2 linked regions of the Homo sapiens genome follow. The protein of the gene in region 1 purifies or fractionates together with the protein of each later gene. This does not show direct contact. Each region holds a gene or a part of one and is shown on either strand. Other genes may lie near its edges.

What was found.
Region 2: the proteins of OVGP1 (region 1) and PEX6 purify together in Homo sapiens (affinity purification with mass spectrometry; one large-scale study listed by BioGRID and IntAct). This does not show direct contact.

What each region holds. Positions count from the first base shown.
Region 1 is NC_000001.11:111,424,936-111,428,925, reverse strand, and holds the start of OVGP1 (oviduct-specific glycoprotein precursor), read left to right. Parts: upstream 1-1,190; 5' UTR 1,191-1,204; coding exon 1,205-1,229; intron 1,230-1,834; coding exon 1,835-1,864; intron 1,865-2,284; coding exon 2,285-2,489; intron 2,490-3,486; coding exon 3,487-3,543; intron 3,544-3,990. UniProt on the Homo sapiens protein: Binds to oocyte zona pellucida in vivo. May play a role in the fertilization process and/or early embryonic development.
Region 2 is NC_000006.12:42,968,943-42,972,963, reverse strand, and holds part of PEX6 (peroxisome biogenesis factor 6), read left to right. Parts: intron 1-2,976; coding exon 2,977-3,079; intron 3,080-3,162; coding exon 3,163-3,296; intron 3,297-3,978; coding exon 3,979-4,021. UniProt on the Homo sapiens protein: Component of the PEX1-PEX6 AAA ATPase complex, a protein dislocase complex that mediates the ATP-dependent extraction of the PEX5 receptor from peroxisomal membranes, an essential step for PEX5 recycling.

The sequences.
Region 1 (3,990 bases):
GGTGGGCATAAGGTCCAAGACCCTCTGTAGCAGAGAAAGAAAACTGATGAATCATAAAAGCATCTGGCTTGCAGTCTGGTAATAAAAACGGTATATATATATATATATATATATATATATATATATATATATATATTTTATCTTTCATACTCCTGTTGTTGCATTTTTAAAAAACTGGCTCTTAGATGTCCAGAATTGTATCCATCATATTCTTGAGGTTCATGACACATCCTCACAATTGGCTCATATACTGACTCAAATATTGTTGACTCATAAAAATTCAGGTTTTGCCTTCTCCTGAGAAACTGAAGGATCCAGCAACACTGGGTCTGTTTCCCTGCAGGGAAACCATTAGCAGCTGCTCAGAGTGCTGTCCCTCTTTATACTGATCTCTGTTGTCTCCTGACCAAGAGGCTTCATGTCAGTTGATGTACATCATTGGGCATGAACTGTTACTTTTCTAATAAAATAGAGATAGCTGTTTTATTGCATCTACACCATCCATTTACATTACCTGCCTGGCAAGCGTCATCTGAGTTTGAGAACTCTGCTCTGCTGGGCAACCCTTTTGACATCCCTAATAATAGCTACCATTCACTGAGCCCTTATTATATGCGAGCACGAAACTAACAATTTTTGACCCATTATCTCTTTGATCTCTATAAAGCTCTATGAGGTAAGTCTGAGCTGTCATCTCCATTTTACAAGCATGGAAACTGACCTCACAGAGGCAGGTAATTTGTGCAAGATTACAAAACTTCTAAGTGGTGACACTGAGATTCAAACTTTGAATTCAAACCTTGGATTCAAAGCCTAAATCCAAAGCTATGGTTTAAACTTTTTTTAAAAATTACGCTGCTTCCCAGCCAATAATCTTTTAATAATAGAATTGCTGCTACCATATGGGGTTTCTCCCCCATATTCAGTCCCTGTGGTACTGAATACCAGGAAGACCCTCTTCCTGGTATTCAGTGCCAACCTGGTGCTGTTGCTTTGTTGGAGAGGGAGGCCAGGTCGTTCTGGGGTCACTGTGACTCTCATAAATTACTGATCCTGGCACTGGGGTGTGTGTGTGTGTGTGTGTGTGTGTGTGTGTGTGTGTGTGTGTGTGTGTGTATGTGTAGCTGGGCTGTCCCAGCGCTATCCACAGGGAAGCTCCTATAAAGGGCTGCATCTCTGGACTCACAGCTATCAGACCATTGAGATGTGGAAGCTGTTGCTGTGGGTTGGTGAGTGTGGCAGGTCCCAGCAGTGTCACTCAGTCCAGGAAGTGCCAGGCTTTATGAGTTCGTCATCTCTCTGGTGCCTGAGAGAGCAGCCTGAGACTCAGGGAAGCCTAGATTAGGTAGAGATGGGATGGGCCATAGTTAATGGTCAGAGGTCAGAGGGACCCAGGGAGAAGTGGTCAGAGCAGTGGTTCTCAAACCTGGTGGCCCATTAGAAATTTTAAATGCCTGAGTTCCACCTTGGACCAGTTCTGTTAGAATCTCTGCATGACCAGCCAGGATATCAGTACTTCTTAATTTGCAGCCAGGGTTCAGAACCACTGGCCTCGAGCTTTTTCTGGGACTTCTAACACTTGTCATTGTCCCTGGGCAAAGCATGAGCATATACACATGTTTATCAAAAAGAAAAGGAACTTATATCTAGCTCCACTGGTCCAACTTTAGAAACTAGGAAACGAGTAAATGGTGTGTGTGTCCCCATTTGTGTGTCTGCATCTGCATAAGGTGGTGTGTTGGTGGGCACCCTTGCTAATCAGAGGGTGTGCTGTGCCATACCACTCTGGTGAGGGTATGAATCTCTGTGTGACTCCTTCCTTTGTTTCTCACAGGGCTGGTTCTTGTGCTGAAACACCACGATGGTAAGGAAACTGTGTTTTCCCTTCCAGAGCCAGGGAGAGTCTCTGGCTGAGAAGTCCTCCACATTGAGTGTCCCCTGCAGCCCACCTTGCCCTGGCTTCTCTGACAGGGATTATTGATCCAACACAGTTTCTCAGAGGATTTTTGGTCACCTGCTGTTTGTGTCGCTGACTGTGTGCCTTGGTCCAGACTTGAGAATCTGTTCTGACCAGGATTTCACAAGGCATTGTTTTCTTCCTGAGACCTCAGCAGTGGGGGAGGAATAGAACCTCAGTGTAGTTCTGAGGTGTACTTCAGGGCCAGGGAGAGAGGATGTGAAAATGTGGCCTGGTCTCTTGGGCTGCGTTCACATTGCTTTCTGGAAGCTGAGCTCCATCCCCTCCCTTGGTTTTTGCCAACTAATGTGTGCTCTCCCTTACCAGGTGCTGCCCATAAACTCGTGTGTTATTTCACCAACTGGGCACACAGTCGGCCAGGCCCTGCCTCGATCTTGCCCCATGACCTGGACCCCTTTCTCTGCACCCACCTGATATTTGCCTTTGCCTCAATGAACAACAATCAGATTGTTGCTAAGGATCTCCAGGATGAGAAAATTCTCTACCCAGAGTTCAACAAACTAAAGGAGAGGTGTGTTCATATTGGATGTGGGGGTTGTATTTTCAGATTTCACAGGTATAAGATAACAGTCTATTTCTCCTGTTACTCTTCAACTTTCTTCTATTTCTTCCAGTCCTACCTTCCTCTCAAATAGGGGTCCAGAGCACCCCCAACTTGAGAACTCCTTGTCACAGACACCTTGAGCTCTTTCCTGCCTCCTTACTTTTGTAGTTGCTGTTGTCTCTGCCTGGAATGTGCTTCTCTCTCTTCTCTGCCTGGCAAAACCCAACTCAGCCTTTGAACCTAGTTGTGAGGATTTTAGTTATTAATGCTGTTAAAGTGGGCTTACACATCCCAAATGCTCAACAAATGCTCATGTTTTTATTACCGTTTGTTACCGGTGAGCTACTCCAGGGAAGGGGCAGTGTCTGCTGTGTTGTTGTATCCCCAGTGGCTAGGTCAGTGTCTCACACAGGGTTGGTGCTCAGTAAGTGTTTGCTTACATTTTCCTCTCTCCGGAACTCCTGGGATCTCTCTGTGCCCAAAGGAAGGCTTGTTACTGCATTAATGGTTATAGATGGGCAGAGTAAAAGTTCTATGCCACTAGATTATAAACTCCCTGAAAGTGGGGAGCTTATCTGTGTTGTTCTTTGTTCTAAAGTGCCTAAAGCAGTAAATGGCACATAGACATTGCTCAATAAATATTTGTTGAATAGGAAAAAGAGAAACATTTTAGACTGCTCTTTTTTTGGAAGCATCATAGGGACATGCGCGAGTTTGGCAGACTTTGTGCAGCCTTGGAGTTGTTGGGCTGTGATGGCCCTTGGGTTGATTGTTCTCTCTGTCTTTCCTCCTCTCTCCTGTGCTCATCATCTCTCTCCTTCTATCACCTTCCCCCTTTTCCTTTCCTTACCTCCCATCTCTCCTGTTTCCTGTTTTCTTCCAATGAGCAAAATAAAAGAATGTGGCAGCAGCTGCCCACCGGAGTGAAGAACCCAGCTCATCAACCCTCTCTCTCACATCATAGGAACAGAGAGCTGAAAACACTACTGTCCATCGGCGGGTGGAACTTTGGCACCTCAAGGTGAGACTTTGCTGTTATTCTCTTCTCCCTGGGAGGGTGGAGCAGGCTGGTTAGACGTGAAGACAGAGGGGGAAGGCAGCTTGGCCATGCGGACAGCAAAGCTAGCGCAAATACTTCCCCAACTCATGAATCTTAGACCCCTGCACTCAAGGGATATCCTGGCCTCTTCTCCATGGTGGGTCAGGGGAGACAAGGAAGTTCTAGCAGGTGGTGAGAAAGAGGCTGGGGGAAAATTAGGGACAAAATGAGGCACTCATAATTGTTTCCTCAACCTTTCATAAGAGGCAAGGGTTTTGTCTCCAAGGGGAGGAATCAGGTGCAGGATGAGAATAACTCCCAAACCTCACAGGTTTCTTCACTTTATTAGTGGATCCAGGGATATCAACCTCAAAGGGTTGGAACAGAGGAAAGGAAATAACAAAATGCTAAGCTTAGTGCTGGGACATA
Region 2 (4,021 bases), on another chromosome or scaffold:
CAAGACGGGATTCCTTCCTTTCCGTTCTTAGCCTTCGTGTTATTTGGACCAAGACTTGGGCCATACCATCCATATCTCAACGTAAGGATATACAGGCTCTGATTTCTGCCTTAACTACGGAGTGTGCACAAACTACTTCTCAATCCTATCTCTGAAAACAGGAGAGGGATTTCTCTTTTTTTTTTTTTTTTTTTGAGACAGAGTCTTGCTTTGTTGCCCAGGCTGGAGTGCAGTGGCGCAATCTTGGCTCACTGCAAGCTCCGCCTCCCGGGTTCATGCCATTCTCCTGCCTCAGCCTCCCAAGTAGCTGGGACTACAGGTGCCCACCACCACGCCCGGCTAATTTTTTGTATTTTTAGTAGAGATTGGGTTTCACCGTGTTAACCAGGATGGTCTCGATCTCCTGACCTTGTGATCCGCCCGCCTCGGCCTCCCAAAGTGCTGGGATTACAGGCGTGAGCCACCGCACCCAGCCAGGGATTTCTATTGTTTTTGAGAGGGCTACCCTGTCCTATCAACAGAGAATGAGAAATAGAGCATAACCGAGCCAAGAACCCAAAATAAGGAATCCAGCTTTTCTCCTCTTGTTGACTCTGACCACAGAGGTTCCATGTAAAATGGTGAGGCAAAGAATTGAGACACTGCTTTAGCCTTATGTGTAGGGAGGAAAATGTATAGCTCTGTATCCCAGCATTCCCTGTATTCTGGACTCATTTCCTGCAGCAGTTTACTAGAAGGAGAGCACAGCTGATAGATGCACTAACTCATACATAAGAGCCTTCATGTCCAAGGTCTGTGGCATAGCCAGCCTGGGTCCTCTGCCAGGAGAGACAGTCCTTGTTTGGAGTGCCTGATGTTCATCCCTGGTCAATATCCAGTGCTTGGTTCTGGCCAGTGCTCAGTACCCCCAGTCTCAGGGTGGTGGTGCTCTGTGGAACCCCATTTAGGCTCCATGTCACCTCTTCGAGGTTTTCCAGATTAAGTCCACGAGTCTGGTGGAAAATGCCAGGCTGGCACTTAGCAGTCACTTCCCACCTCTCTCTCCTATCATAAATTTAGCAAACGTCTTTGAGCTAGCTTTCAGTAGGAAAACTACAGAATGCCCACTCTTTGTACTTTCAAAGGAAAATAGGCACTAGAACCTCATGAGACAGGCTGGCAAGCCAGTTCTGTTCCTGAACTTCTATTGTCTCAACTCTGTAGAACCCTGCTTTCCTCCTGAGTGCCGAGCACATAGTTCTTTTCCCCGCAAGGAAAGCAGGGTTGGAGTAAGTGGCCCAATGGGTCCAAGGACAGATACAGATGAGCGTTTTAAGCTGCACTGGGCTTGAGAAGGGAAGCCCTGCAGAAGTTCCTGTGAGCCCTGGAAAGGAATTCCACTGTTGGTGTAGCCTCTTCATCCTGTCCCTGGTGCTCCACTTCCCCAAACCAGGCTGCATGGGAGCCAGCTCCACTATCACCTATCTGGCTGGCTGGAGCACAGCTCAGTGTTCCTTAGCAGTGTCCACATAGGTTCCAGAGCTCTGGCCTTTCTATTCACTGAGGTGGTCCAACCACCCTCCACTGAAGAAGGTGGTCTCTCCCTATGCCACAGTGCTGTCCCCCATCTCATTCCTATGCAGGGCTTCCATGGTGAGTCATACACACCATGACTCAGCTGTTGAGCTTGATCGAGATCCTAGGTTAGAGGCCCACTGTCACCTATTTATAATTAATTATAGGCAGATTCAGGCTTCCTGATGTTCCAGGTTTACTGTAGTACTTAGAAGAGTTTCATAATACTAACCTGGTATGCTTCCCCTCCACCTTGCTGCACTCTCACACCCCTTTGCTGCTAGAGAGAGCAGCTTTGAGACTGTGGGGCAGTGTGAGCAGAGGAATTTGCAGCCTGATTGGACCTTAAAGAGGACTAGGTTATAGCCTGACTCTGTCATTGCCTTGCTGCCTGAGGATTAAAGAGGGAAGTAGTTCATGATTTCTTTATCTGGAAAATTGGGTTAGTAGCTGTTCCTGCTACCCATCCTATTCCCCGTTAGTAGGTTGAATAACCCTAACTCACTATGACACTCGCCAACTACTGCGCAGCCCTGGTTATGCATCAGAATTGCTGGGGAAGCTTTCAAAAAATACAGGTGCCTAAGCCCCACCCCAGATCTATTGGGGCAGAATCAGGGTGAGACTGGAGCCTGTGCTTTTTTTCCTTCACAAAGGAAGGAGAAAGGTTAATTTTAAAAACATAAAATTCACACACCATAAAACCATACTTTTAAAGTATACAATTCAATTTTTTTATTCATAAGGTTGTACAGCCAACATCACTGTTTCATTCCAGAACATTTTCAACATCTCAAAAAGAAACTCTGCACCCATTAGCAGTCATTCCCTGTAGCTTCCCTCATAGGCAATGGCAACTGCTGATCTGCTGAATAGAATCATATAATATGTGAGAAATGTTTAGTTTTTAAAGTTACACAGATAATTCCAATGTGCAGCCAGAATACAGAACCATTATTCATCAGATGGCATTATTAAGGACTCCGCCTGCAATGAGATTTTGTGGATTATTGAGTAAGAGCCAAGGGACCCTTCCCCCTAGGGTTTTTGGGGCCTGGATGGCTGTGTATTTGAGGGGGAGACCGAAGCCAGTAGAAGTAATCAGATGATCCACTGCTTAGTGCAGCAGCAGCTTCTCCCATTGGTGTGGGTGGGTAGGCCACATGCCTGGAGAAACACACCCCCTCAGAGCTCTCATGGCTGTCATGGGGGATGCAGAGGGACAGGCATAGCTCTTGCCCTCAAGGTGTGTATGGTCTGTCAGGAAGATGAGAAAGTCCATCTGCATTCCTTTTCCCCACCATGACTCGGGACACGCTCTTGTGGTGCTTTTGTTTGTCCTCTGTGATTGAGAAACCTTGTCCTTGAGGAGGGGGGTTTTTGGACTCTGGATCTGGGGTTCATTGGGCCTTTTTCCTGCAGGTGGCGGGAAATGTTTTTTAAAGTGAAGAAAACAGTTGGGGAAGCTCCAGATGGACCAGCCAGTGCCTACTTGGCCGACACCACCCATACCTCCTTGTACATGGTGAGGCCCCAAGGATGGGTGTAGACCAGCGCAGGGGGTAGAAACGATTTTTAGAAACGAAAGCTTTTTATTACCTTTCACAGGTGGGTTCTACCCTGAGCCCTGTTCCATGGCTCCCTTCAGAGGAATCCACTCTCTGGAGCAGTTTGTCTCCTCCAGGCCTGGAGGCCTTGGTGTCTGAACTCTGTGCTGTCCTGAAGCCTCGCCTCCAGCCAGGGTGAGTGAGGTCATCACCCCAGGGTGTGAGAAAAGCCTGCTTAGAACATCCCTGGAGGAGCAGCAGCCAGATGGGTAGTTCCTAATGAACTGGCCAGAGTGGGATTGGGAGGACCTTCCTCAAACCAGTATGTCCTACACAAGGCCACCAGGCCACTCCTTTCTGTAAGCCAATTCCCAGGCTCCTTTCCTGGGATAACCTCTGTCCTCCAGGGCTGGCTCTGGAGGAAGAATCTCCAGCAGGGGCATCTGTTTCTGAGACTGCCCTTCCCCTTGGGGAGCTCACTGGCCATCCTGCACTTTACTGCCCTGGCCCTGAAGGACACAACTCCTCATACCAGTGGCCCAGGTGTGGACGCAGATCCCCACCTCAGTGCCACCACAATGTCTCTCAATACCATTCAGACCAGTCATAACGTTGAGGTTTTATTGGCAGCACAGCAATGCCAAAGGGAATTAATTAGTCTTTGGCTGTTGGATATGCTGGATGCCCCGGCCAGAGCACCGCAGGTGGTGTGGGAGACACAGCCTCACTACATGGGGACAGCCCTGTCCTGGGGTCAGGGAGGCTCAAGGAGAGAAAAACAGGGTATCTGCTTTCTAGATCTAAGGGATCTTGTGTTACTGGGGACTCTAATGTTTGGGCAAAATGAAGGAGACGAATGTCTGTTCTCTGGTTGCAGGGGTGCCCTGCTGACAGGAACTAGCAGTGTCCTTCTACGGGGC